Regions from separate parts of the Homo sapiens genome. Here all the other regions are linked to region 1. The links come from fine-mapping of genetic effects on plasma protein levels. A gene starts in region 1. Each other region holds a variant in brackets. All regions are shown on one strand. Distances are between the middles of the regions.

Region 1 (4,113 bases):
AGGGGCAGAACCCCTCCACCTCGCATCCACATAGACAGAACCCCCTGGGCGGCACCAGGGGCTCACCAGCTGTGGTGGAATCTGCAGGGCTGAGAAGGAGTGGGGTGACGGGATCCGAGGCCTGTCCCTGAGCGCTGCCCGCTACGCGCTGTTGCGGCTGGAGGAGGGGCCTCCTCACACCAAGAACTGGCGGTGAGTTCCCGCCAGACCCTGGCCAGGGCGCAGAGGTTCTTAGGGGTCGCTGTCGGGGTCAGAGGGTCGAGAGGTGCCGGCTCCCCATCCTGGGGCTGCCCGGGGCACCCTCCTGGGCCATGCTACCCAAACCTGCAGGGACCACGACCCGAGAAGGGAAGAAGAGGAGGGGCTCCCTAGAACGGCCGGCCCTGGTCTCAGGCTCCCCCCACCCGGCCACTGCAGGCCGCAGCTGCTGGTGCTGCTGAAGCTGGACGAGGACCTCCACGTGAAGTACCCGCGGCTCCTCACCTTCGCCTCCCAGCTCAAGGCTGGCAAGGGCCTGACCATTGTTGGTTCTGTCATCCAGGGGAGCTTCTTGGAGAGCTATGGCGAGGCTCAGGCCGCCGAGCAGGTACTTGCTTTGGGGAGGGAGAGCTGAGCCAGACTACAGGGGTCTGGACTGCAGCTGGCACGGAGGGGAGGGCCCAGTCTTGGCCAGGGTGGCCAGCCAGGCAGCCAGCACTGCTGCCACCTGAGAGCTGGCACAAGGGGGAGCCAGCAGTCCCATCTTGAAAACTTGGCCTCTGGGTAGGCAGCTTGTTGCCCCCAGGCCCTCCTCCACCCAAAAGTCGTTTTGTTCCCGAGGGGCCTTGGGAGGGAGCCCAGAGGCAGGAAGCTGATGGCCTCCCATTGGCCCTGGGTGTGTTCCCCACAGACCATCAAGAACATGATGGAAATTGAGAAGGTGAAGGGCTTCTGCCAGGTGGTGGTGGCCAGCAAGGTGCGGGAGGGGCTGGCCCACCTCATCCAGTCCTGTGGCCTGGGAGGCATGCGGCATAACTCCGTGGTGCTGGGCTGGCCCTACGGCTGGCGACAGAGCGAGGACCCCCGTGCCTGGAAGACCTTCATTGGTGTGTGAAGGCCTGGGGCCTGGTGGGCAGGGGTGAAGTGAGGTGGCAGTGGGCGGAGGGCCACAGACTGGTGGTCAGCCGTGCTCCTCCTCCCCAGACACCGTGCGCTGCACTACGGCTGCCCACCTGGCCCTGCTCGTGCCCAAGAACATCGCCTTCTACCCCAGCAACCACGAGCGCTACCTGGAGGGCCACATAGACGTGTGGTGGATCGTGCACGATGGTGGCATGCTCATGCTTCTGCCCTTCCTGCTGCGCCAGCATAAGGTAGACCAGGGGGTGGGTGCAGATGAGAGGGGCTAGGCCCTTGGAGGAGCAGCTGTGACCAAACCGCCCACCTGGTCCCTTGCCTCAGGTCTGGAGGAAGTGCCGGATGCGCATCTTCACAGTGGCCCAGATGGATGACAACAGCATCCAGATGAAGAAGGACCTGGCTGTCTTTCTGTACCATCTGCGCCTTGAGGCCGAGGTGGAGGTGGTGGAGATGGTGAGCCCTCTGCCCTGCCCTGGCCCCGTGGATACCATGTCCCGTGCAGCTGGGTCCTCACGGCCAACCCTGTCCCCAGCATAACAGTGACATCTCTGCATACACCTACGAGCGGACGCTGATGATGGAGCAGCGGTCGCAGATGCTGCGGCAGATGAGACTGACCAAGACTGAGCGGGAGCGAGAAGTCAGTGCCCTTTGTGGTTCACGCCAGGGCGGGTGGCAGGGTCAGGCCTTTGGAGACCGCATCGGTGGGTGCGGAGGAATCAGAATGACTCACCGCAGCCCTACCCAAGCTAGTGCTCATTTCCCGGAGGCAAGGTGGTCACATTGGGCCAGACAGGCCCCATCCCCCTTTTCCTATGGGACCAAGGCTATCTCCTGCAATTGTCCTCAGGCCCAGCTGGTCAAGGATCGGCACTCGGCCCTGCGGCTGGAGAGCCTGTACTCGGACGAGGAAGATGAGTCTGCAGTGGGGGCTGACAAGATCCAGATGACGTGGACCAGGGACAAGTACATGACTGAGACCTGGGACCCCAGCCATGCCCCTGACAATTTCCGGGAGCTGGTGCACATTAAGCCGTGAGTGCAGCAAAAACAGCCCCAGCGGCACTGGAATCTAGGGGTGGAGGTGGGGTGGGGCAGACAAGTAGTGTTAGATGGGCCAGGGGTGGGGACCCTCCTTGCAGGATGGCTCATGGCGACCTGTGACTGGCTACACTACGTGTAGGGACCAATCCAATGTGCGGCGCATGCACACTGCTGTGAAGCTCAATGAAGTCATTGTCACGCGCTCCCACGACGCCCGCCTGGTTCTCCTAAACATGCCTGGCCCACCCAGGAACAGTGAGGGCGACGAGAACTGTATCCCTTTGTGGAGAGGCAGGCAGTTGGGAGGTGGATAGCATGGGAGGTCAAGCCAGCGGCTTCTCTCCTGGGCACCCCTGGGTGGGCATGGCCCAGGTGGCCCGGGTTGCCCGTTGATTCTGTTGTTGCCTCCTTGACTTGAGGCCCTGCAGACATGGAGTTCCTCGAGGTGCTGACCGAGGGCCTTGAGCGGGTGCTGTTGGTGCGCGGTGGTGGCCGTGAAGTCATCACCATCTACTCCTGAGCCCAGTGTCATCTTGTGGCCTGGAGTCGAGGTCTTGGCCAGGACATAACAAGCTGTGGTCTGGGGTAACAGCCTCTTCCCAGCACCCACCTGCCAGCCCTGCTTGCCTGGCCCTGTCCTGGACCCAGCTTTGCTAGGTCTCCTTGGAAACCAGGCCTGGGCCTCAAAATGGAGATGGATCCCAGGTCTTGTGGGACCCTGGGATGTTTGGGGACTTTACTATCTAGCACCCCAGTAGGCCTGTCCTGGCCAGAGAAGACTGGTAGGGGCCGAGTGGGGTTTGAAGGCAGCCGGCCCGGCCCAGCCCAGGAGCGCTATTTATTGCATATTTATTGTTTGGATGTCACCATCAGAGACGAAGGGAAGGGTAGCCAGGGAGGGAGTCCAGCCCAGCTGCCTGCAGGAAGATCTGGCTCAGTCTACTATGGGCAGGGCCCCCCACCAAGCTGAGCCGAATGGAGACAGCTGAGCTGAGGCCTGACTTTTTCAATAAAACATTGTGTAGTTCTGGGCCTCCTGCTGCCCCGGCTCTGTTTCCCCTGGCGCCAAGAGAAGAAGGCGGAACTGAACCCAGGCCCAGAGCCGGCTCCCTGAGGCTGTGCCCCTTTCCGGCAATCTCTGGCCACAACCCCCACTGGCCAGGCCGTCCCTCCCACTGGCCCTAGGGCCCCTCCCACTCCCACACCAGATAAGGACAGCCCAGTGCCGCTTTCTCTGGCAGTAGGCACCAGGGCTGGAATGGGGCCGCCCGGCTCCCCATGGCAGTGGGTGACGCTGCTGCTGGGGCTGCTGCTCCCTCCTGCCGCCCCCTTCTGGCTCCTCAATGTGCTCTTCCCCCCGCACACCACGCCCAAGGCTGAGCTCAGTAACCACACACGGCCCGTCATCCTCGGTAAGCCCCCACCAGGCCCCTGATGCACCACGCCAGACCCTGGGGAGCCTGGGCCCCAGCCCCTGGCAGCTGACCTGGCCAAAGCCCTTCTGCCCTGCATAAGCCCCGACATAAGTACCTGCCCTGGTGTGGGGAGGGGCCAAAAGCTTGTCCCTTAGAGGAATGACGTCCCTTCTCCCACCACACTGTGACTCTCAGTTGTCTAACCCAGGGGGGGCGGAGTGGGGGACGGGGTGTGCCTGAGGTCTTGGCTGGGGCATCACAAGCTGTGGTCAGTCACAGCCACACCAGACTCTGGGCCAAGCCCCACCACTCCTTCCTTGGCCCCCACCCACCAAGGACAAGATGCCCAGCCCAGGATCGGTGAGCAGGAGAGGCCCATCCATGCCCGGCCCCTATTAGGCCCAGCCCCCATGCCCCCAGACCTATCTGTTCCCACCTTGGACTTTGGCAATAAAGGAGCGCCAGACTGGGTGTTTGCTCTGCAGAGGCAGGGGTCAGCGGCCTTGGCCTCAGCACCTCAGCGCCTTCCCTTCCT
Region 2 (4,000 bases), 1.0 Mb after region 1:
CAAAGCCTGGGTTCATTAACCCCAGATAATTCACCAAAGTGGAAAGAAAAGGGGTGTCTCCCTGATGGCTCCACATGAACATTAACCAAAAATGTCCTTAGCCTGAACCACATAGTGAGACCCCGTTTCAACAGAAAATGTTTTAAAAATGAGCCAGGCATGGTGGAATAGGCCAGTAGTCCCAGCTACTCGGGAGGCTAATCTGAGAGGATCATCCCGGATTTCGAGGTTACAGAGAGGTATGTTCATGCCACTGCATTTTAGCCTGGGCAACAGAGCATGATGCCATCTCTAAGAAAAAAAGTTTTTGTGTGTGCCCATTCTATAGGCCCAACAGATTATCCATGGCTGGGGTTCTTGGTCACCTCAAGGTGCAGCCCTTTGGCACTTAAGTGGATCTCCTGGCATGAGTTGGCTGAGTGAGTCCTGGGTCCAGCCCAGAGCCACAGCCTTTGACCTCTGGGAGCAGCCAGAACTCTGTGACCCCATGTCCAGGGGCCAGCTGCCCAGTCTGGGTAAGGAGCATTTCTTGGACCTGACAGTGAGAAGCTTCTCAGCATGGTCCACTCTGAAGCAGGGCCTGAGCTAATATTGTCCTTTTCAGCTTCTTGCAGAAGAACTGTCCTCCAACCCCCAGTGAACTGTGGCCTGACACCCACCGGCAGGTTAGAGCCTTCATGGCTATGGGCCGGCGTGTAGATGCTGAGGTACAGGCAGTCCTCAGACATGGAGTCGGAAGGGAAGGTCATGTTGAACTGGCTAAGAAACTCTGACTCCACTGCGGTGAGGTCCTGTAGACACCTGGTAACCAGGGCAAATAATCAGTCCAGGGGCCAGGCTGTGGCCAAAACCAGACCCTGGGTTCAGAGGTGCTCCCAGCCACCCTCAGACCCTTCCCACAATATCCTGCTCACACATGATCCCTCTCAAAAATCCCTTCCCACCAAGTTACAGGCCACAGGCTCTGGGGAAGCTGGGATGCAGCTTGGACTTCCAGGGAGGCCTCGAGGTTACTGAGGACCTTGGGTATCATTCCTCGCACTGCCGGAAACCTTGACTCTTAGGGGTTTCTATGAGAACCATTGGCTGCATGTGTTGACATTCACCACTATATTCCTGTAACCCGTAAGGCCTGGGACAGGGGAGTAGCCCACATATGTGTGCTACATGAGTGAATGGATGTTAATTTCTCATGAGAAGGGCAGTGGGATGTCTCTCATCCCAAGTCTAAACTCTCAAAAACTCATCATTCCTACATGGCCTCCAGTTGGAAACATATACATATACATATACATGTCTCTTGGCCAATGGCTCCTGGTCCTGTCAGTGGACACAGTGCCTGTGGAGAGTGCAGGTCCCCAGAAAGCTACCACTACTGTTCTCTTCAGGTATTTGCAACATCTGCCACTAGAGTTAGGGGCTCCTACAAGGTTCATAGAGCCAACCCGAACCTTTCCCAGAGACACCTGCCACTGGTGGCAGAGAAAGCTTGGCATAACCAGAATCTGGGGAGATACGTGTGTCTGCCCCTCCCTTCGGCACCTGGAGCCAATGTCTTCTGAATGCCAAGCCCTGATCCAGGAGTCTGAGAAGTTATTCTGCCCTCCTGAGCCTCAGCATGCTCATTGGAAAAATGCACGTGGGAATCCACGAAACTCAGAAGGAAAACTGGCTGTGGGGGTTTAGATGAAATGATAACTGCAGCCTAGCTGAGCTCAGAGCACCCCCACCCCTGCCCCAGGGCCTGGAGTTCCCTGGACCCCTTGGAGAGCTTACATGGCCGGATGGGTGGTTCCATCCCTCACACCACTCCAAGATTCAGGGGGCTCAGGGGGTGCAAATCGCAGCGGACCTAGAGGTGGCTTGGCAAATGGAATTCCCAGGAAGGTTTGGACCCCGGCATTGGCGCCCTTCACATGGACAAGACTCCCCAGCACCTGCCCCGTGTGTGTGGTCCGGATGGGACTGGCTGAGTCCTGGCCTGTGGGCAGAGAGACAGACATCACGGTTGGGTTTGACCAATCGACTGCCCTCCCAACTGTTGGTATTGCTGCTTCCTTGCCATCCTCATCTTAGCTCAAGGGACTCTGATCTGTAAACATGGGCTTTACAAACTTCCTGCCTGTAACACTCCCTTCCC[G/A]CTCTGGCTTCCTGGGCCTGTCTCCATCCCACCAGGCTGAGGCTCCTTGGGGCCAGGCATCATCATTCAGCCCTAGGACCTTCAAACAAAGGGTCACATGCCCTTGATGGGACTAGAGTGTCCTTCAACTGTGTGCCAGGTCATGTGACAGTAGGATGATGGTGGGAATTGGGCAGGCAAGTTTCTTGTCCTCAGGGATGTCATGTCCAAAGTGGCAAGAAATCATGTAAAGAAAGCATCATCCAAACCATGAGTGATGTTGGTGAAAAGAGGTGCAAGAGAAAAGTATGGCTGTGGCTGGGATATAAAAAGCACAGTGACTGGCCTGGGGACCATAGTGGGACTCTGTCTCTGCAAAAAAATCAGGAAATAAATTGGCGGGGTGTGGTGGTGCATGCCTGTAGTCCCAGCTGTAGAAAAGCCTGGCTCCAGAAAGTGGGTGAGTTTATGACTGTTTAGATGAAAATCAAGGACAAGTGCACACATCTATTCTTGTGTAAACTGCTGGGCACTGTGTGTACTGCGGTGTCAACAAGCAGTTTCCAGTGTGGGCCATGGGGACTTTGATGGCCCCTGAGGAGAAGCCAGGACTGGTTGGGTAAAAAGAGGATGGCACACATCACCTGTACCCTCCTATGGCTTGTCAATTATTTTTTCTGAATGTGGGTCCAACCCAAAATTTTGTATACATATATATTTGTCAGACAAGGTCGCCATCTGTTGCCCAGGCTGGAATGCAGTAATATGATAACAGCTCACTGCAGCCTCCACCTCCTGGGCTTGAGATCCTCCCGCCACAGCCTCCTGAGTAGCTTGGAGTACAGCTGTCTGCCACCATGCTTGACTTTTTTTTTTTTTTTTTTTGGTAGAGACAAGTCTTGTTGCCCAAGCTGGTCTCTAACTCCTAGCCTCAAGTGATCCTCCCATCTCTGCCTCTCAAAGTGCTGGGATAACAGGTGTGAGCCACTGTGCCTGGCCCAAAATATTTTAAAAGGTAGCCATCTGTGAGGCCAGGCAGATCTTCCTGCTGGGCTCCTGGTGAACTCTAGAATGTGGTCAAGGGCAGGCACGGGAGGAAGCCCTGCAGCAGTGCACCATGGGGCGGGGGGAGTATGGACTCCACCTGCGCAAATTAAATTGGGGAAGGGTTGGAAGAGACAGATCATACACTTAGGAGAGTTTCGGGTGAGAGGACCAAAGGCCGAAACACTCCCCCAGCTTCTGATAAGGGCCTGGAGAAGCCTGGCAGGCACACAGAGCCTTCACCTTTGCCCTGGAAGCCAAGTTGTGCCCTTGCCCAGGATGAGGTAAATGGCATGAGGGACACCACGAGCTCTTTGGTTCTTGTTTCTGGAGACAGATTTTTGCTTTTTCACCCAGGCTGGAGTGCAGTAGTGGGATGAAGGCTCACTGCAGCCTCAACCTCCCCTACTAAAGTGATCTCCCACCTCAGCCTCCCAAGTAGCTGGGACTACAGGTCACAGACCACCACAGCCCACTAATTTCTTTCAATTTTTTGTACACTCCGAGTCTCACTATGTTGTCCAGGCTGGCCTCCAACTCCTGGGCACAAGCGATACTCTCCCTTGGCCTTCTAAAGTGGTGGGATTAAAGGAGTGAGCCAATCGCACCCAGCCACTGTGGCCTCTTAGATCTGCTTTAGGATTTGGCGCCTGGGGGCTTCTGTTCCCCAAGGACCACTATCCTTGTCTGAGGCCCCTTTGGAGGGCTCAGGGCATCCCCCCTGGCCAAGGACGCCACACACTGAGAGCCAGATGCTGCCAGAAGCTATTACTGTTATTACCGGCCGGCAGCACCCGCTACAGCCACAATCATAAGAGGGAAATGGACTGAATCCCC
Region 3 (4,000 bases), 200 kb before region 1:
AACACATATTTTGACCAACATCTGTTCCAGATGTATAATACCATAAGAAAAATAGGGCTATGCCTTTCTATCTGAGAGACTTTTAAAGGAAGATCAAATAAACTAATTAGACTATTATCCCATCTGATTTCCAGAGAAGCATTTATGTTGTAGGCAATAAATAAATTACTACTACTGTTAACACTAGTCTCTAAAAACTTTCACCAGTATCAGTAATCTCTTCAGTCCACCCTCTGCTTCGCAGAAGAAAGTAAGCCAAGTTGTTTGTTATGTTTCTGTATCGTTTCCATAGCAAAGGTCTGTGCCTGCTTAATTTAACTAAAGCTGGAGGGTTAAAGCCTGAAGGTCACTACAGGACAGACTACAGCAACTTCAATAAGAGCAGTTCCATTATCAGTTCTGCTGATTAGTTGGGGGAATGGGCTCTAAATATATTAGACCCATGACAACACATTGTAGAAATACTAAAAATACAAAATTAAATTTCTATAATATAAATTGCTTAAAATGAAAGTATGCATAAAAATGAAAAAATAATACAAACTTCATTTTTCAAATTTCAGTAACTTTTGGGATAAGATTCAAAATATGTATACCTTAATAAAACTTACCACTGTATAATATATAAGCTTTTTAAAAAAAATCCTTTTTTTTTTTCTTTTGGGAGACAAGGTCTTGCTATGTTGCCCAGGCTGGCCTTAAACTCCTGGGCTCAAGCAGTGATCCTCTTGCCTCAGTCTCCCAAGTAACTGGGATTACAGAATCACATCACTACACCTGGCTAAAACTTTTATTCTTCTTAAATAATTAGACTCATAGGAAGTTGCAAAAATAGTATGTATATGTACTACAGGTTGAATATCCCTAATCTGAAAATCCAGAATGCTCCAAAATCTGAAACTTTCTGAGCACTGATATGACACCCAAAGTAAATGCTCACTGGAACATTTTGGAATTCAAATTTTTGAATCAGGGATGCTCAACCAGTATGTATTCTGGAAATATTCCAAAATTTGAAAAAATCCAAAATCTAAGACACTTCTGACTTCTGATCCCAAGCAGACAAGGGATACTATAGCCCCATGTACCCTGCACCTAGTTTCCCCCAACTATAATACAGTACATATACCCACAATATTGAACTGTAGTTAGCACAGTATCAAAACCAGGACATTGACACTGATACAATACTGCTAACTAGACTACAGGTCTTATTCAGTTGTCATTGTTCTACATGCATTCATTTGTATGTGTGTATATAGTTTTATGCAATTTTATCCCATATATAGATTCAAATAACTACTACCCCAGTCAAGATATGAAGAAATTCTCTTGGGCCACCCCTTCATATTTGCACCCCTCAACCTGACCCTGTTTCCTGGCACCAATCTATTGTCCATCTCTACAGTTCTGTCATTTTGAAAATATTACATAAATAGAATCATATAGTATATTGACTTTTTTCCACTCAGCATAAGTCTATGGAGAACTGTCCAAGTTGTTGCATGTATCAACAGTTTATTCTTTTATATTGCTGAGTGGTAGTACATTGTATGGATACACCAGAGTTTATTCGTGTATTTGGTTTGTTTATAACCTTGGGCTATTAAAAATAAAGTGCAGCAGGGCGTGGAGGCTCATGCCTGTAATCCTAGCACTTTGGAAGGCTGAAGTGGATGAATCGCTTGAGCTCAGGAGTTCAAAACCAGCCTGCCTGGACAAGATGGTGAAACCCCATCTCTACAAAAAACATAAAAATAGCTGGGCATGGTGGCGCACACCTGTAGTCCCATATACTAGGAAGACTGAGATTGGAGGACGGCTTGGGCCTGTGAGTCTGAGGTTGCAGTGAGCTGAGATCGCATCACTGCACTCCAGCCTGGGTGATGTGCAATCTGCAGAGCCAGACCCTATCACAAAAAAAAAAAAAAAAAGAGAGAGAGAAAGAAAAGTTGGTTGTTAGGCCAGGCATAGTGGGTCAAGCTTGTGATCCCACGGCAGGGAGGCCAAGGTGGGAGGATCACTTGAGGCTAGGAGTTGTAGACCAGCCTGGGCAACATAGTGAGATTGCCATCTCTACGAAAAAAATTTTTAAAAATCAGGTTGAGGCAGCCATGTGCGGTGGCTCATACCTGTAATCCCAGCACTTTGGGAGGCTGAGGCCAGTGGATCACCTGAGGTCAAGAGTTCCGGACCAGCCTGGCCAACATGTTGAAACTCTGTTTCTACTAAAAATGTAAAAATCAGCTGGGCGTGGTGGCAGGCACCTGTAATCCCAGCTACTCGTAAGACTGAGGCAGGAGAATCTCTTGAACCTGGGAGGCGGAGGTGGCAGTGAGCTGAGATGGAGTCTCTGCACTCCAGGCTAGGTGACAGAGCAAGACTCCATCTAAAAAATAAAAAAAATAAAAAAATGAAGTTGAGGCTAGGCGCAGTGGCTCACGCCTGTAATCTCAGCACTTTAGGAGGGCAAGGTGGATGGATCGCTTGAG[C/T]TCAGGAGTTCAAGACCAGTCTGGATAACATGGTGAACCACTGTGTCTACAAAAAAAAATAATGATGATGATAATGATAATACATAGTTGTTACGAATATTATTAGTATACCTATTGTGTAAACATAAGTTTTTTTTTTTCTGTTATAAATGCCCCAGAGTGAGATTGGTGGGGCATAAGGGAAGCTTAGTTTTTTAAGAACCTAACAAACTATATTCCAGAGTGGCTGTATCATTTTAACTCTCACTAGCAGTTTATGAAGCATCCAGTTTCTGTGCATCCTTGACAACAGTTAGTATTATATTTTTTATTTTAGCTGTTCTAATAGGTATGTAATGATAACTCAATGTGGTTTTAATTTGCATTTCCCTAATGGCTGGTGATGTCTGTTCATGTCTTTGGCATCTTTTCTAACTGAACTGTTTTTATTGTTGAGTTTTGAGAGTTCTTTATACATTCTATGATCTTTGACAGATATATGCTTTGCACATGTTTTCTCCCTGTCTGTAGCTTGTCTTTTCATCCTTTTAATAGCATCTTTCACGGAGCTAAAGTTTTTAATTTTGATGAAATCCAATTTATCAATTTTTTTCTTTTAGGTATGGTGCTTTTGGTATTATGTTCTAGAGATCTTTGCTTAGCCTGAGATCTTAAAGATTTTCTCCTGTTTTCTTCTAAAAGTTTTATACTTTTATGCTTTATTTTTTAGGTTATTTTATTTTTTGAGATGGAGTCTCGCTCTGTTGCCCAGGATGGAGTGCAGTGGTGTGATAGCAGCTTACTGCAGCCTCCACCTCCTGGGTTCAAGCAATTCTCCTGCCTCAGCCTCCAGACTTAGCTGGGTCTAGAGGTGAGCACCACCATGCCCAGCTAATTTTTGTTATTTTTTAGTAGAGATGGGGCTTCATTATATTGGCCAGGTTGGCCTTTAACTCCTGACCTCAGGTCATCTGCCCGCCTCAGTCTCCCAGAATGCTGGGGTCACAGGTGTGAGCCACCGCTCCTGACCTGTGTTTTATAATTAAATCCACAACCCATTTTGAATTAATTTTTGAGAAAGATGTGAGGTTTGGGTTAAGGTTTATTCTTTTGCCTTATGGGTGTCCAATTGCTCCAGCACTATTTACTAAAAAGACAATATAAAACCTCTTAAAGAATACTCATCTTTGTCTATAAACAGTATGTTACATAGAGTTACTATTACCTATTTTAAATTAAAAATTGACAATTCCAGCTGATTTTCACATTTTGAAAAAAGTAACGTATCTCAAGTAATTCCTACAATGCTAATATTTTTAGATAAATAAAACCCAATTTTATAACTATATAGCCTTTCTTTCTTTCCTTTTTTTTTTTTTTTTTTTTTAGCATGGTCTTGCTGTTTCCCAGGCTACAGTGCATAACTCACTGCAGCCTCAACCTCCTGGGCTCAAGCAATCCTCCCAAGTAGCTGAGACTCAAGGTGGGTACCACCATGCCTGGTTAAATTTTTTATTTTTATTTTTTGG
Region 4 (4,113 bases), 260 kb after region 1:
TAGTTCTTTCACTTTCCTCTTGAACTGGTTTTTGTTTTCCATTCTTCTTTTTCTTTTCTTTTTTTTTTTTTTTTGTGACGGAGTCTCATTCTGTCACACACGCTGGAGTGCAGTGGCACAATCTCAGATCACTGCAACTTTCACCTCCCAGGTTCAAGTGATTCTCCTGCCTCAGCCCCTCGAGTAGCTGAGAATACAGGCTTGCACCACCACACCTGGCTAACTTTTTATATTTTTGGTAGAGACGGGGTTTCACCACGTTGGCCAGGCTGGTCTCGAACTCCTGACCTCAAGCGATCCACCCACGTCAGCCTCCCAAAGTGCTGAGATTACAGGCATGAGCCACCACGCCCGGCCTCCAGTCTTTCTTTCTTTCTTTCTTTTTTGGATAGAGTCTCACTCTTGTCGCCCAGGCTGGAGTGCAGTGGTGTGATCTTGGCTCACTGCAATCTCTGCCTCCTGGGTTCAAATGATTCTCCTTCCTCAGCTTCCTGAAGAGCTGGGATTACAGGCATCTGCCACCACACCTGGCTAGTTTTTTTTTTTGTATTTTTAGCAGAGATGGGGTTTGGCCATGTTGACCCGGCTGGTTTTGAACTCCTTACCTCAGGTGATCCGCCCGCCTTGGCCTCCCAAAGTGCTGGGATTACAGGTGTGAGCCACTGTGCCTGGCCTCCACTCTTCTTTTCTTTGTCATATATAGAATCATGAACTTTTATAGCAAGAAGGAACCTTAAAGATCAATCACTCCCCTTATTATACATTTAAGGCCCTGAAAGTTGAATCTTTTGACCAGGGTTACACAGAAAGTTAAGTAGCAGAACAGAGATTTAAACTCAACTTTATTCATTTTCCGTTTTTCCTCTTATCCTTCAGTCTCCATGGAAGAAGAAGATTCTGCAGTGTTTCATCTTGGAACAGTATTTCTTTTTTCTTTTGAGACAAGGTCTTGCACTGTTGCCCAGGCTGGAGTGCAGTAGCACAATCATAGCTTACTATAGTTGTGAACTCCTAGGTTCATGTGATCCTTTCACCTCAGCCTCCCAGGTAGCTAGGACTACAACAAGCGCATGCCACCACATCTGGCTATTTTTTAATATATATATTTTTTAATAGAGATGACATCTCGCCGTGTTGCCCAGGCTACTCTCAAACTCCTGGCCTCAAGTGATCTTCCCACCTCGGCCTCCTGAAATGCTGGGGTTACAGGCATGCATGAGCCACCATGCCTGGCCTCGAGCCCTATTTCATTTGTGCTTTTCTGGCAGAGAACTTGTTACTTCCTTATTTGAAAGTAGCCTTCGCACCACTGCACTCCAGCTTGGGCAACAGAGCGAGACTCCATCTCAAAAAAAAAAGAAAGTAGCCTCAGCTGAGTGTCCTCTCCAGTAATAACCAGTGTAATGTTTGCTATTCTAGGAGCCATGTCTGACCAGGACGTTTGGAAGATCATATCCATGCCAGAGGCTCTTGTGAGGAGATGAGTTGGTAAAGAGAGAGGCTGGGATGAAGATGCTGCCAGGAGTGGGCGTGTTTGGGACTGGCAGCTCCGCCCGAGTTCTGGTCCCACTGCTGAGGGCAGAAGGGTTCACTGTTGAGGCCCTGTGGGGGAAGACTGAGGAGGAGGCGAAGCAGCTTGCTGAGGAGATGAACATCGCCTTCTACACCAGCCGGACTGATGACATCTTGCTGCATCAAGATGTGGATCTGGTGTGCATCAGCATCCCCCCTCCACTCACCCGGCAGATATCCGTGAAGGCTCTAGGTACGCCCGGCAGGCCACAGCAGGGGCAGATCATGTCTCTCCCTCTGGGCAGTCCTCTGAGGGTCACTCCTCTCCTCTGAGCTCTCCTTCCTGGGCTCGCATCTGCAGGGAGGAGAACTCTGGGACATCACTTGTCCCTGAAGCAGTGCTTGGGGAGGGCATGAAAAAAGACATAGCCTAACCTACCTCCCATCTGTAAATCCCTGAACAGAAATTAAGGAAATACTCTAAGAGACAGCCATCAAGGGGCTGGAGATGGTTGCATCTCAGTCAACATAAAGTTTGCCTCTGTGAAGTTAGAGGTCAGAGCCCTGGGTGGCGGGGAATTGGTTGTGACTAGTGTGTTTGTTCTCCCATTTCTGGGGCACACAGCACCACAGGAAGGAGAGGCTGTGTAGCAAGGCTACCATTTCCCATGTTTTGTCAGCGTTTGACTATAGTGAGCACACACCCTTCCTGCCAAACTGCAGTCTTGTATTGCCGGAGGACAGGAAGGCTCTGCCAGCATTGGGCTTCCCTGACAGGATCCGTCGACAGCCTGCTTACATGACATCTCCACTCCCTTGGGAAGTTTTGGGCTTGGTAACCTCTTGCCCCTGACTGGGCATGGCCTGCTGAGCTGTTCTCCTACAGTTCCCGTTGGTCTTCTATTTCCAGTCAACTGGAGTCAACTTCTTCTCTTTATCTAATATAAATCAGAACCTAGTTTACTAAGTAAACAAACCAGTAAACATTCAGCCAGCAATTTTTATTTTATTTTGAGACAGAGTTTCCC[T/C]CTTGTTGCCCAGGCTGGAGTTCAATGGCGCAATCCCGGCTCACTGCAACCTTCGCCTCCCAGGTTCAAGTGATTCTCCTGCCTCAGCCTCCCAAGTAGCTGGGATTACAGGTGCCTGCCACCACACCCAGCTAATTTTTGTATTTTTAGTAGAGACAGGGTTTCACCACATTGGCCAGGCTGGTCTCGAACTCCTGACCTCAGGTGATCCATCCGCCTCGGCCTCCCAAAGTGCTGGGATTACAGGTGTGAGCCACCATGCCCAGCATTTTTTTAAAATTATTATTATTATTTTATTTTATTTTTTTAGATGGAGTCTCACTCTGTTGCCCAGGCTGGAGTGTGCATTGGTGCAATCTCAGCTCACTGCAACCTCCACCTCCCAGGTTCAAGCGATACTCCTGCCTCGGCTTTGCAAGTAGCCAGGACTACAGGCATGTGCCACCACGCCCAGCTAATTTTTGTCTTTTTAGTACAGATGGGGTTTTGTTATGTTGGCCAGGCTGGTCTCGGGCTCCTGACCTCAGGTGATCCACCTGCCTTGGCCGCCTCCCAAAGTGCTGGGATTACAGGCAGGAGCCACCACACCCAGCCTCAATTATTTTTTTAATGCCTCCTGTGTGCCAGTCACTGTCCTGATGTCATTTTGGACATTCAAAGCTGTGTTAGATTGGACCCCTCCCTGTCTTCAGATTTTATAGTCCAATTGAGGCAACTAGAAATAACACACATTACAAGGTAGATGACAGAAGACATAGTCACAATTCAACTAGCACATACTTACTTGACTGAGTAACTGTTTTATGTGAGGTAATAGGAGCCAAGTGTCTCCTTGATGCAGCCGAAGATCTCTAGGTCGAGGAACCGGTGCCATGAGGTTGTCCTCCACTCTTCCTGACCACTGCCATGGTGGCAAACCTCAGGGTCTGCTACTTATCTCCTCCCTCATTCTGAGGAATGTCATAGGAAGGTGTCTGTCACCTCTGGCTCAGTGGGTAGGGAAGGATAAATGTTCTTTGAAGTGAGAAAGAACTTCAGTCTGTCCGGTTGTCAATTTGGAGCAAGTAAGTTTTGGCCTTATTGTTTGTTTCTTCCAGAGAGCTCTCTCTGAGGATGTGTGACATTGGAGTTATTCATTCATTGGTCACCAAATGCTTGGGAGGTCAGATGGTGGCTCCCAGATTGAATTCAGAAATAGACCTAAGTCAACACTTTAGCAGCAAGTTGGTTCAAGGGGAAGCAAGCCGCTATTGGTCACTTGACTCCTTGCCATCCCTTGTGGCTTGAATGCAGGCTGGAAAGGTGAGGTGTGTCCGGAGCCAGAACTCTGGAGGCTCTCAGTCTTCTTCCTGAATTTTAGGGTTCCCCACAGAGACCATTTCCAAGCTATACGGGAAGAAAGAGGAAACCCCAGGGTTCTTTGGCAACAAGCTTGCTTTTTTTCTGGTTCTTGGTATGCTCCACCAGCAGCAGCATCACCTGGGAGCTTGTTAGAAACTGAATTCTCAGCTGGGCAACATAGTGGGATCCCGTCTCTACAAAAAAGTTTAAAAATTAGCCAGGCATGGTGGCA
Region 5 (4,113 bases), 650 kb after region 1:
ATTGTTTGAACCCAGGAGATAGAAGTTGCAGTGAGCTGAGATCGCGCCACTGCACTCCAACCTGGGTGACGGAGTGTGACTCTGCCTCAAAAAACAAAACAAAACAGAGCACAAGTGGACCGAGTGGCCTGCTGGGAAGGCCCTCCAGAGTTTGCATAGGGAGGGGGCCAGCTCTGAGGGACCTGGACTGAGAAGGAGGTACGGTGGGCTTCCAAATGCCTTGAGAGGGTGGTCTAGGGGCCATCAAAAGTTGAAGCAGGGATGATGTGCTTCTCCCTGGAAGCTCTGCTCCCCACCATGGTTCCTTGTGACTGACAAGACAGGGAAATGGAATCTCAAAGCCTCTGCTCTAGTGTAGTTGGAAAAGGGGAGTGAGAGAAGATTGACCTGCCCCTTCGCAAAGACCTAGCCTCTGAGACTGAGTCCGGTGTCCAACCCCCTCCAGTATCCAGAACTGCTGTCCAACCCTCAGAGAGTGTACTGGATCACATATGGACAAACCCTGCTCATCCACGGGGATGGCCAGATGTTCCGACACATTCTCAACTTCCTGAGACTTGGCAAACTGTTTTTACCATCTGAATTTAAGTAAGTGAAGCAAGGACGCAGTAAGATGAAATCACGAAGGCTGACCCCTCCCTTAGCAACAAAGGAGACCTGAGTTGCAGCCTTCAGGGAGGAGGTTATTTTATTTCCATCGTGGGAACTGTTGGCAGCGGCAGTTCCAGGAGCTCATGCTCCCTCCCACACCCTCATCCTAGCTGCCCAGCTGGATATCTCCTTGTTGTTTGCAGGGAATGGCCCCTCTTCTGCCAGGAGGTGGAGGAATACCACATTCCATCCCTCTCAGAAGCCCTTGCACAATGTGAAGCATACAAGTAAGAAAACTTTATCACGACTCTATGTTTAGAATTTGGTCCTTTAAATTCCTCTTGAAATCCTGTCCTAAGTCCTACTCCTAGAGGATCCTGATCTCCTTGGGGTTGAGGGAGTGAAGCAGGCCCAGGATTGGCCAGTGACCTAGGCAAAACCCTTTAAGAGCCCCTTCTTCCCTGCTGTCTAGCATTAACTCCCAGCCAAAGAGCAGATCTGACCAACTGGCCAATGGCCTGATGGAAGTCTCTACTCACTAACCAACCCCTCTTGGTTTCTGCAGGTCATGGACTCAGGAGAAAGAATCTGAAAATGAAGAAGCTTTTTCCATCAGGAGGCTGCATGTGGTGACAGAAGGGCCAGGGTCACTGGTGGAGTTCAGTAGAGACACTAAAGAAGTAAGCACCAGCCTCCTCTGGTTGGTGTTATCCTCAAAAACCACTACCACCGGGCTCAGGGTGGATGGGGGTAGGTTCAGCTACTGGTGGGTGCAGCAAAATGAAAGAGCAGAGCCTACATGGGTTCCTAGGACAGGACCTGGCTTCTGAACCGTGAAGGAGGCACAGGAACTTACTGGCCACTTGTGGCCTGCGATGCTGATTGTATCTCCTGTTGGAATGACAGGCCACTGGGCTGGCACCATCCCCACTCAGCCTGAGCAAAGCTCAAATGGGTGACCCCTGTCAGGGATGGGATTGTTCAGGGAGAGCAAGTGAAGTCTTGGAGGCCCAGCTTATTAGATCTTGGGCAAGGCGTTGATGTCCATGCCCAACCTATCCAGAGTTACTGTGCCCTTCCCTCCCCAGACCACAGCCTACATGCCTGTGGACTTCGAAGACTGCAGTGACAGGACTCCATGGAACAAGGCTAAGGGAAACCTGGTCAGGTCCAACCAGATGGATGAGGCTGAGCAGTACACTCGGCCCATCCAGGTGTCCCTATGCCGAAATGCCAAGAGGGCTGGCAACCCTAGCACATACTCACACTGCCGTGGCTTGTGTACCAATCCTGGACACTGGGGGAGCCACCCTGAGAGCCCCCCAAAGAAGAAATGCACCACAATCAACCTCACACAGAAATCTGAAACCAAAGACCCTCCCGCCACTCCCATGCAAAAACTCATCTCCCTGGTGAGAGAATGGGACATGGTCAATTGCAAACAGTGGGAATTCCAGCCACTGACAGCCACACGGAGCAGCCCCTTGGAGGAGGCCACCCTGCAGCTCCCCTTGGGAAGCGAGGCTGCTTCCCAGCCCAGCACCTCAGCTGCCTGGAAAGCCCATTCCACAGCCTCAGAGAAGGATCCAGGACCACAGGCAGGGGCTGGAGCTGGAGCGAAAGACAAGGGGCCAGAGCCAACCTTCAAGCCATACTTACCCCCAAAAAGAGCTGGCACCCTGAAGGACTGGAGCAAGCAGAGGACCAAGGAGAGAGGTGAGTCCTGTCCCCCTTTGATCTAAGTCTTATTCACAACAGAGAAGGCAAACTCTTTGGCCAAGATGGCAGAGCAAGTTAGTGACAAAGGAGGACTAGACCCCCCCGCTCACCAATGCCATCTCTGTGCCAGGCAGCAGACACAGAAATGACTGGCACATTGGCATGGCTGGAGGGGCCAGGAGAACACACACGG[C/T]GAAGGGATGAGTGCTGTGGGAAGGAGGTGCCTATGAAGCAGGAGCACAAAAGAGGCTGAGGGCTGGGGAGTCAGCAGGGGAAGGAAGGAGAAGTCCAGGATGTTTGGAAGCGCAGGGCATGGGTCTAGCTGGAGGCCAGGCTTCACATGCAGACGTGATAAAAGATGAGGCTGAAGACAGAAGTCATAAGGACAGGCCTCGTGGGCCAGCTTCAGGACGTGGTACTCCATTCTGACCAGGATGGGAGTGAGCAGCGTCTGAAGGATTTTAGACAAGAGCACGGGGTCAGGTGTGCCCATCAGAAAGTTTGCTCCAGGAGCAGAGGAAATGCAGCAGGAGCTAGGTATTCGAAGCCACTTGGAGTTCTTTCTAGGCTAGGGGAAGCAGGCTAGGCAGGTAGTGGAGGGAAGGAGGGATGGGCCAAGGAGAAGCCAGGTTTCTAGCCTGTGGGACTGCAAGGGGGTGGATAGGCCCTTACTGAGGTGTGGGTAAGAGAAAGAGCAGAGCTTGGGGAAGGGCACATACTGAGTGTGAAATGCCGAGGGACATCCAGGTGGAGAAGCCCAGGAGACAGCAGGGGCTACAGGGACTGAACTGGAGAGAGAGCTTGTGTAGCCAGCTAAGGGAAGGTGGCCAGGGAACTGTGCTGAAAATCGCTGTGCCAGGATGCTGCCTCTGCTCCCTCAAAGCCCTGCCTGCAGTATTGTCACCTTCCCTATTAGTGGCTCCAGCCCTGCTTGGAGGGGCCTTCTTGGACTCTTGCCTGTGAGCCCTAAGTTGGTCTGTCAAGGTTGGGATGACAAATGTCCACTCTTTGGACATGCATCAAAGGCTGGCCCCAAAAGTTCTCAACTTAAAATTTTATAAAGATTTCCAGCCCTCAGCCCCATTTGATACGTCTTAGTTCAACAGAGGAATCTGGAGTTTCTTCGAGTTCCAAAATGTTCAGGATTTGGCTTGCAGTGATGCCAGGGCAATGAAGAGAGGAGTGGCCAGGACAGGCCCCTGCCAGCCCAGGGTGTCACTTCTGAGAAACTAGAGGTGGCAGCTGTTGCAAGGCTGGGGTGACTTGATTGTACTGGCCTGTCACCAGAGGTCCCCTTCCTGCTTGGGCTCTGAGGTGGCTTAAGGAGAGTCCCTGCTTATGAAGATTTGATGGTAATTGAAGAAAAGAATTTTAAAAGCCTGTGCGTGTGGCTCACGCCTGTAATCCCAGCACTTTGGGAGGCTGAGGCGGGTGGATCACCTAAGGTCAGGAGTTCGAGACCAGCCTGGTGAAACCCCATCTCTACCAAAAATACAAAAATTAGCCGGGCGTGGTGGCAGGTGCCTGTAATCCCAGCTACTCAGGAGGCTGAGGCAGGAGAATCGCTGGAACCTGGGAGGCAGAGGTTGCAGTGAGCCAAGATTGTGCCATTGCACTCCAGCCTGGGCAACAAAAGCAAAACTCTATCTTGAAAAAAAATTTTTTTTTAAAAGGAGAGCCCCCTCCCTATGTTGTTTTCACAGAAAGCCCTGCCCCTGAGCAGCCTCTGCCCGAGGCCAGTGAGGTGGACAGCCTAGGGGTTATCCTCAAAGTGACTCACCCCCCCGTGGTGGGCAGCGATGG
Region 6 (4,113 bases), 740 kb before region 1:
GCAGCCGGGTGTGGTGGGCATCTTGTGGGCCACGGGGGCAACGGTCTCCTCTAGAACCTCAATCAGATGCTATTTATTAACCTGGTGGAGGTCTTTGGAATTCCACAGGACCCCTAAAAGACCATTCTAGCCCAACCGCCTTCCTGTGTAGATGGAAAAACTGAGGCCTCGAGAGGGAGGGAGTGACTTGGCCCATGTCACATAGCGAGAGTCAGGACCCAGCACAGTGATCGTAGCCAACACTCACTGAGCATGCTCTGTGCCAGGTCCACTTCACATGCTCTACATAGGTTCGATTCCTCGAGGCCTCAGTTTTTCCATCTACACAGGAAGGCGGTTGGGCTAGAATGGTCTTTTAGGGGTCCTGTGGAATTTCAAAGACCTCCACCAGGTTAATAAATAGCATCTGATTGAGGTTCTAGAGGAGATCATTGTCCCCATGGCCCACAAGATGCTAGGATAGGAACGTGTGCAGAATCCTGGTGTGGGGCAGATGCCCACCAGTGGGGCTGGCACCCCACCCGCTACCACCACTCACTCAGGTACCTTCCTCGTTGACCTCTGCCGTCCAGTAGATGTCTGAGTCATCTGTGAGCTGGGCCTGGAAAGGGGAGGTGTGGGGAGACAGGTCCTTGTCCGTGATGTTCAGCACCTGGCGCACAGGGCTTTGGTTGCAGATGGTGATCTGACGGGGCTCAGGGACTGGGCCATGGTCATTGACATCAATCAGTGTTAGCAGAAGGGTTCCCGTGCCAGTGGTGGGAGGGCTTCCTGTTTGTAATGACACATATGATGAGCTCCCTGTGACCCACCCAGTCAGCCTCAGGGGGGCTCCTCCTGTTTACCGCCCAGCTCTCACCTCTCAAGACCTTCCATGCCCTTGCTTCCAATACATGGCACATACATGCCAGTTGAGCCATCATTCTCATTTCTGTCCACAGCAGACATTACTAACTATCATGACACAGTTGCAGCCACTTCATCCAGACAGCCACTATAACCACAAGGCGAAACCTACCGGCTACTTCAGGGTTACTCCAGTGTTTGTCGATCAGCTTCAGGGAAGCTTCCCTTCACAGCCCTGCTGCAACCTCTCACCTGCCTGCAGGTCCTGGTTCATTACATGTCAACCAGAGGTGACAACTACGTCATAACCTCCCATCTGTTATGGTGTGGCATCACTAATCTGTCATGGCACTTTCCAGTCAGCCCCTATCAATCAATCACAAGGGAAAACTGACAGGCCAATTCAGGACCCAGTGAACCAAAAACTAAGGCTGAAGGGACTTTCCTAATGCTGATGTTTTATTTACTTATTTGAGAGTCTTACTCTGTTGCCCAGGCTGGAGTGCAGTGGCACAATTTCGGCTCACTGCAACCACCACCTCCTGGGTTAAGGTGATTCTCGTGCCTCAGCCTCCTGAGTAGCTGGGACTACAGGCGTGTGCCACCACACCCAGCTTATTTTTTTTGGTCATTAGTTATCATTAGTTTATTATAAGAGAGAAATATGGAAATTATTTACATGATGAAAGGTTTCAGAACTTCAGTGGAATGGGCAGCTTCACGTTGATGCCATTCCAATAGTGACTTATTTCAGTCTACGTACTTTCCAAGAATGTCACCATCCCTAAATAGGAGATAATCCTTGTCATCTAGAACTACTTTGGTGCCTCCATATTCTGGAAGAAGAACTTTATCTCCAACTTTCACGCTAACTGGTTGAATCCCTCCACCCTTTCCTTTAGAATCCGATCCAACAGCAACTACTGTTGCTGCAATACTTTTCCTTGAGATTTTTCTGGACCCATAATGCCTCCTTTGGTTACAGTTTCAGCGGCGCTCCTTTCAACCAATACTCGGTCAAAGAGTGGAAGAAACTTTCTAAATGCTTGTCCTGCCATGACTCCCTCCACCTCAGACTCGTACTCTGCTCTTGTGTAGCGCCGCAAGGAGAGACATGCGGTCTGACCCTGGCGACACGTGAAAAGACCGCCTGGGTGCAGGTGCACTCACCCCAGCCCTTGCCGCTCGCCCCGAGGCGTGCTGCAATTCGCCCCAAGGGCCCTGTGCAGGCCACTGATGC[G/A]GGAACTGGGAGGCGGCACACTCAGCTAATTTTTTATGTTTTTAGTAGAGACAGTGTTTTGCCATGTTGGCCAGGCTGGTCTAGAACTCCTGACCTCAGGTGATCCACCTGCCTCAGCCTCCCACAGTGCTGGGATTATAGGCTTGAGTCACCATGCCCGGCCCTAACTCTTATTTTTTAATTTTTCATTTTTTGTAGAGACAGGGTCTCTGTATGTTTCTCAGGCCAGCCTTGAACTCCTGGGCTCAAGTGATCCTCCTGCCTAGGCCTCTCAAAGTGCTAGCATTACAGGCCTGAGTCACCACACCTGGCTCCCTCCCAACTCTTGGGTTTTAGGGAAATTGGAATCATGGCCAGTCCCTAGGATCAGTCTTTTGTTGTTGTTGCTTTTTGAGATAGTCTCGCTCTGTCACCCAGGGTGGAGTGCAGTGGCACGATCTTGGCTCACTGTAGCCTCCACCTCCCAGGTTCAAGTGATTCTTCTGCCTCTGCGTCCGGAGTAGCTGGGACTACAGGTGCACACCACCACACCCGGCTAATTTTTTGTATATTTAGTAGAGACGGGGTTTCACCATGTTGGCCAGGCTGGTCTCGAACCCCCGACCTCAGGTGATCTACCTGCCTTGGCCTCCCAAAGTGCTGGGATTACAGGCATGAGCCACTGCATCCGGCCTAGGACCAGTCTTTAAAAGACTCCTCTGAAAGACCCCTTTGACCGTCTGGATTGGTTTGCAAATAGCCCTCCTCGACACATGTTCCCACCTGTGGAGGAAACATGCTGTGCTGTGTCATGTGACCTGAGAACCAAAAGTGGCCCTTGTGGGAGGGCTGGGAGGATGCTCTCACCATTGTCCATGGCCAAGACCATGACTTCATAGATGTTGTTCCTCACAAACTGCTCATCCTCACGGTCGAGGGTGCCCACAGCTGTGACCTGCCCACTGTCTGGGTCCATGGCTAGCCACCCTGCTGGGTCTCTCAGGATGCGGTAGCTGGAGAGGAAAAGTTGAGACGAGTACATCCAGAATATTTAGAATTCTGATGTCATCATTCAGGGCCTCCTCATACCAACTGGCAGATGGCCTCTGGGCTCCTAAGCAGGATCATATGGAAAATGCACCTCGCCCATAAACGGGGACCTAAAGCAGCAGGTGCAGGAGTCCCAGGAGGGATACATGACAGAGTGAGAAATACCTGCCCCCAAACCCCTATTCAGTCTTCAGCCTCAAAGAGGGTAGGAAGAAGAGAACCTATGCAGGAGGGATATTCCTATTTAACAATCTCTATGGTAATCAGAACAAACGTTGGCCATGATCACCCACCCACCAACTGTACCAGTACGTGCTGCTTACTGAGCCCAGCTCCTGAGTACCTGATCTTTTGATTCTCCTTGTCAGGGTCTTCTGCAGTGTAGACACACACAGGCTCCCCAGTGGGGATGCCCTCCTGGACCTCAACGACTTTGGAGGGTGGGACAAACACAGGTGCCTCATTCACATCCTCCACGTGGACCACTATGGTGGCTGTGGAGGTTGGGAGCTTCAGCACAAAAGGGGCCTCGTTGGTCACTTCAACGTACAGGGTGTGCTGGTTTTTGGCCTCAAAATCCAAACCCTAGGAGAGAAGAGGAAGAAGGACCTGGACCACCATTTTGAGAGGAGGTCCTGTGCAGGACAGTTGAGATGTGAGAAGGAAAACACCAATACTGAGGGGCTTGAGGCCCTCACTAGCAACAGTGCTGCCCTTTCTCTGTAACATAAACACTCCCGTGTTTCCTGAGTGCACATCTAATGGGGCCTCTCAGACCATCCTAAAAGTAACTGTATTAATAAGCCCTAGATCAATGGTTCCCAGTGGAGTGGTGGTGATGTTTGAGAAAACTGGGGGGCCTGGCATTGTGGCTCATGCCTGTAATCCCAGCACTTTGGAAGGCCAAGGCTGCTGGATTGCTTGAGACCATTATTTGAGACAGGATCTTGCTCTGTCACCCAGGCTCAAGTGCAGTGGCTTCATTATGGCTCACTGCA
Region 7 (4,000 bases), 470 kb after region 1:
AAAGGCCAAAGGCATTCCCTGAAATGTGGGTAGCTCCAAAGGAGAGCCTGAAAATAAATGAGGTAGTGAGTGCCAAATGTGGCCAAGAGATTGATAAAGTCAGCCTTCCATTTGGTTTTGCCATTCAGAGGTCATAGGAGACCTTAATGAGAACAGAAGAAGGTGAGGCTAGAAGGTGACCGCAGTGGATGGGCAGAGACAATGTCTAGACAGTTAGAGAAGACCTTACTGATGGACTGATCCCAGCGCAGCCACTTAACTGGTTTTGTGACCTTGGACAAGTCATTTATCCTCAGCTGTAAAATGGGAATAATATTAGGGTCTCTGAGATGTTTGTGAAGTGTAAGCACAGGGCCTGGGACCAAGTGAACAGTTGGAGAGGCCAGGTGCTCCACTGTGGTCATTCCCTGCTGTCACTCCTAGGAGACAGGTGCCATGGTGGGCCTTGAGTGGCTAATACAAGTATGTCACACAGGTCTTGCTTAGGGCAAGTGTGCCTGTCTAACAGGCAGACTGAGTGACCATCAAAACAGCATTGAGTGCACAGTAAGTGCAGGGTACTTTAGGGAGGGGATGTTATGTGGTGGGTGACGGTTAATGGGTATGGGCTTTATTTTTGGGGTGATAAAAACGTCCTAAAACTGGCCAGAAACGGTGGCTCATGCTTGTAGTCCCAGCACTTTAGAAGGCCGAGTCGGGGGGATCACAAGGTCAGTTCGATACCAGCCTGGCCAACATGGTGAGACCCCCATCTCTACTAAAAATACAAAAAATTGGCTGGGTGCAGTGGCTCATGCCTGTAATCCCAGCACTTTGGGAGGCCGAGGTGGGCAGATCACGAGGTCAGGAGATCAAGACCATCCTGGCTAATGCGGTGAAACCCCGTCTCTACTAAAAATACAAAAAATTAGCCAGGCATGGTGGTGGGCGCCTATAGTCCCAGCTACTTGGGAGGCTGAGGCAGGAGAATGGCATGAGCCTGGGAAGTGGAGCTTGCAGTGAGCCGAGATTGCACCACTGCACTCCAGCCTGGGCGACTGAGCGAGACTCTGTCTCAAACAAACAAACAAAACCACAAAAAATTAGTTGGGCGTAGTGGCGGGCACCTGTAACCTCAGCTACCTGGGAGGCTGAGGCAGGAAAATCGCTTGAACCCGGAAGGTGGAGGTTGCAATGAGCTGAGATTGCACCACTGCACTGCAGCCTGGGTGACAGAGTAAGACTCCATCTAAAAAAAAAAAAGTCCTAAAACTGATTGTGGGGCGGTTGCACAATTCTGTGAGTATGCTTAAAACCATGAATTGTACACTTTAAGTTGGCAAATTGTATGGCAAATGAATTATATCTCAGTAAAGCTGTTGCTGCGCCACCCCCCCCAGCCCCAAATTAGCCAGGCCAAGAGGTGGGAAGAGCATAGGGAGAAGGAATGGCATTAGTAGTCTCAGAAACACGAAACTGCCTCGTGCATGACAGCAGCCTTGGGAGGTGGAAGGAGAAAGTAGAGTGTGTGTCGAGGATTTGCAGCAGCGAGGTCTGGATAGATGCATTGGGCTGGTTCCTGGAAGGCTGTGGGTGTCTTAGAAGGACATATTGCTCAGGAAGGATGAAAGTTATGGTAAAAAATTGTTTTAAAAAGAGAGAGATTCTTAGATTAAGGTTAATGTGTAGGAAATGTCTTGTTTAGGATTTTCTGTGTATGCTCTTGCCTGGAAATATATATATATTTTTTTGAGACAGTCTTGCTCTGTTGCCCAGGCTGGAGTGCAGTGGCGCGATCTTGGCTCATTGCAAGCTCCGCCTCCTGGGTTCACGCCATTCTCCTGCCTCAGCCTCCCGAGTAGCTGGCACTACAGGCACCCGCCACCACGCCCGGCAAATTTTTTGTATTTTGTTTAGTAGAAACGGGGTTTCACCGTGTTAGCCAGGATGGTCTCGATCTCCTGACCTCGTGATCCTCCCGTCTTGGCATCCCAAAGTGCTGGGATTACAGGCATGAGCCACCGCGCCCAGCCGCCTGGAAATATTTTATACATTTCATTTTGTTTGTCAAAGGAAACTCTATTGAATTGGTGAAATTAGATGACCACAACTTGGACAGCAAGATGAGCTTAGCTCAGTCCTAAATTCCTCTGAGTCAAACGTGATCCAAAGGAAGAGATGACATGGTACTGGCAATCTAGTGACTACAAGCAAGAGAGAGGAGCTGGGGGCTGGGGGAGGGCATTGGGAGAAGGGTGTGCAGAAGGCAATAAT[A/G]GAAGGAACATTTACTCTGTGGAAGAAAGGGAATGAGCATGTTGAGTTGTGAGAGCCTGGACCCCACACAAGCCTGAAGTTTTTCCCTCTTGTTGGCCCCACTGCCCTGGGCAGTGGCATTGCTGCACAAGGGGACCCCAGTGCTCAGTGGCGGATGAACTGGCACAGGTTGTTGGTGGTGTCTGGCAGCCTGCTGCACCTGTTGCTCCCCTCCAGCTTGCTGCTGCTGCTGCCTGCGAGAATGAGGCCCCAGAGCAGGAATGGAGGCTAGGGCTAGGCAGGGGGGAGGTTTGGCATCTCGCTGTCATGAGCCAGTGTGGGAACCTAACCCCTCACTGGGTGAAGAAAAGGGGAATTGTGGAGGAGGTAGGGTTGGTGGTATGATACAATTAGAAACTCACTGGGCCTGGTGTGGTGGCTAACGCCTGTAATCTCAGCCACTGAGGAGGCTGAGGTGGGAGCATCACTTGAGCCCAGGAGTTTGAGGCCAGCCTGGGCAACATAGTGAGAACCACCCCCCGGCCCAATCTCTAAAAAAATAATAATATGGGAGGCTGAGGTGGGAAGGTCGCTTGGGCCTGGGAGGTTGAGGCTGTAGTGAGCCGTGATCACACCACTACACTCCAGCCTGGGCAACAGAGAGAGACCCCGTCTCAAAAAAAAAATTAATAATAATTTTTTTTAAAAAAGAAACTTGCTCTGAGGGAGGGGATGATTAATCTGTATAAAATTACAGCTAGATAGGAGAAGTTCTATTCTATACCATAGGGTGACTGTATTTAACAATAATTCATTATATATTTTCAAACTGCTGTAAGAGAGGATTTTGAATGTTCTCAACACAAAGAAATAATAGGCCACGTGTGGTGGCTCATGCCTGTAATCCCAGCCCTTTAGGAGGCTGAGGCAGGTAGATCGCTTGAGGTCAGGAGTTCAAGACCACCCTGGGCAACATGGTGAAACCCCCATATCTACTAAGAATACAAAAATTAGCCGGGCGTGGTGGCGCATGCCTGTAATCCCCAGCTACTTGGGAGGGTGAGGCAGGAGAATTGCTTGAACCCAGGAGGCAGAGGTTGCAGTGAGCCAGGGTCACCCCCACTGTACTCCAGTCTGGGCAACAGAACCAGACTCTGTCTCAAAAACAAAGAAATAATAAATGTTTGAGTTGATGGATATGCTAATTACCCTGAATTGATCATTCATTACACAGTGTATATATGTATCAAAATATCACATGTATCCTATAAATATGTGCAATTGTTACACGTCAATTATAAACAAAAAAGAAACTTGCTCTGAGGCTCTAGAGGATGGATTTGTGGGAGCAGGCCAGAAGCAGGACACTTGCTAGCTGCTCTTGCAGCTCTCTAGGTAGGAGAATATGGACTAACCAGGGCTGGAGTGGAATGAGGGGGGATGAAGGACCAGGTCAGAGATCAGCTTGGGAGATGAAACCCACAAGATTGGTCCAGTTTTTATTAGATGTGGGTGAAGAGGGTTAGAAGTCAGGCTGCTGGCTTAATAAATGACTGGGTGGATGCTGGAGCTCCTTTTGAGATACGGGCTACCAGAGAAGGGATAGGAAAGTTAGGGGTGCAGATTGGGGGGTGGGAGGGGAAGTATTCTATCTCAGATGTCTGAGGGAGTCCGGCAGGCAGTTGGCTGTGTGAGATAGTAACACTAAAGATATTAACCTGGAAGTCACCAGTACACTGGCTGGTGGCAGTTAGGCCCGCGCCAGGCC

Which allele goes with the higher level. Positions count from the first base shown, and alleles are read on the strand shown. Strength reflects both the effect of a copy and how common the allele is.
As copies of A replace G in region 2, the plasma level of the protein whose gene starts at base 3,403 in region 1 goes down (moderate association).
As copies of T replace C in region 3, the plasma level of the protein whose gene starts at base 3,403 in region 1 goes down (weak association).
For the plasma level of the protein whose gene starts at base 3,403 in region 1, T is the low allele of the variant in region 4 and C is the other (moderate association).
For the plasma level of the protein whose gene starts at base 3,403 in region 1, T is the low allele of the variant in region 5 and C is the other (weak association).
For the plasma level of the protein whose gene starts at base 3,403 in region 1, A is the low allele of the variant in region 6 and G is the other (weak association).
In carriers of allele A in region 7, the plasma level of the protein whose gene starts at base 3,403 in region 1 tends to be lower than with G alone (moderate association).

The links. PIP is the posterior inclusion probability: the model's chance that the variant is causal. Protein levels are from antibody-based Olink assays in UK Biobank. Linkage for the fine-mapping came from a reference panel and not from the study's own genotypes, which makes the PIPs less certain.
Region 2: its variant is fine-mapped to the plasma level of the LCAT protein (UK Biobank, PIP above 0.99).
Region 3: its variant is fine-mapped to the plasma level of the LCAT protein (UK Biobank, PIP above 0.99).
Region 4: its variant is fine-mapped to the plasma level of the LCAT protein (UK Biobank, PIP 0.99).
Region 5: its variant is fine-mapped to the plasma level of the LCAT protein (UK Biobank, PIP above 0.99).
Region 6: its variant is fine-mapped to the plasma level of the LCAT protein (UK Biobank, PIP 0.92).
Region 7: its variant is fine-mapped to the plasma level of the LCAT protein (UK Biobank, PIP above 0.99).

The regions. Positions count from the first base shown.
Region 1 is chr16:67,943,410-67,947,522 of GRCh38, reverse strand. It overlaps LCAT (lecithin-cholesterol acyltransferase), which reads left to right and starts at 3,403. Exons shown (of 6, transcript NM_000229.2): 1 at 3,403-3,575. The coding sequence starts at 3,422. SLC12A4 (solute carrier family 12 member 4) reads left to right here. Exons shown (of 24, transcript NM_005072.5): 16 at 88-192; 17 at 418-586; 18 at 890-1,085; 19 at 1,183-1,352; 20 at 1,441-1,572; 21 at 1,652-1,759; 22 at 1,970-2,154; 23 at 2,303-2,436; 24 at 2,592-4,049. The coding sequence ends at 2,683.
Region 2 is chr16:66,936,018-66,940,017 of GRCh38, reverse strand. CES2 (carboxylesterase 2) reads right to left here. Exons shown (of 12, transcript NM_001365405.1): 2 at 1,777-1,981; 3 at 660-801. Among named protein-coding and RNA genes, the nearest start is that of CES2, 2.5 kb to the right of the region's middle. The variant G/A (reference allele first, on the strand shown) is at 2,141.
Region 3 is chr16:68,143,068-68,147,067 of GRCh38, reverse strand. The region is part of intron 3 of NFATC3 (nuclear factor of activated T cells 3); the gene reads right to left. Among named protein-coding and RNA genes, the nearest start is that of NFATC3, 60 kb to the right of the region's middle. The variant C/T (reference allele first, on the strand shown) is at 2,493.
Region 4 is chr16:67,683,109-67,687,221 of GRCh38, reverse strand. GFOD2 (Gfo/Idh/MocA-like oxidoreductase domain containing 2) reads left to right here. Exons shown (of 3, transcript NM_030819.4): 2 at 1,420-1,765. The coding sequence starts at 1,507. Among named protein-coding and RNA genes, the nearest start is that of C16orf86, 18 kb to the right of the region's middle. RefSeq lists enhancers at 1,401-1,460, 2,507-3,706. The variant T/C (reference allele first, on the strand shown) is at 2,541.
Region 5 is chr16:67,291,738-67,295,850 of GRCh38, reverse strand. It overlaps KCTD19 (potassium channel tetramerization domain containing 19), which reads left to right. Exons shown (of 16, transcript NM_001100915.3): 9 at 446-588; 10 at 795-878; 11 at 1,157-1,271; 12 at 1,680-2,307; 13 at 4,014-4,113. Among named protein-coding and RNA genes, the nearest start is that of PLEKHG4, 14 kb to the right of the region's middle. The variant C/T (reference allele first, on the strand shown) is at 2,504.
Region 6 is chr16:68,684,170-68,688,282 of GRCh38, reverse strand. It overlaps CDH3 (cadherin 3), which reads right to left. Exons shown (of 16, transcript NM_001793.6): 10 at 3,459-3,700; 11 at 2,933-3,078; 12 at 547-771. It also overlaps the pseudogene HSPE1P5. Among named protein-coding and RNA genes, the nearest start is that of CDH3-AS1, 40 kb to the right of the region's middle. The variant G/A (reference allele first, on the strand shown) is at 2,087.
Region 7 is chr16:67,470,598-67,474,597 of GRCh38, reverse strand. The region is part of intron 1 of ATP6V0D1 (ATPase H+ transporting V0 subunit d1); the gene reads left to right. Among named protein-coding and RNA genes, the nearest start is that of ATP6V0D1, 8.6 kb to the left of the region's middle. The variant A/G (reference allele first, on the strand shown) is at 2,254.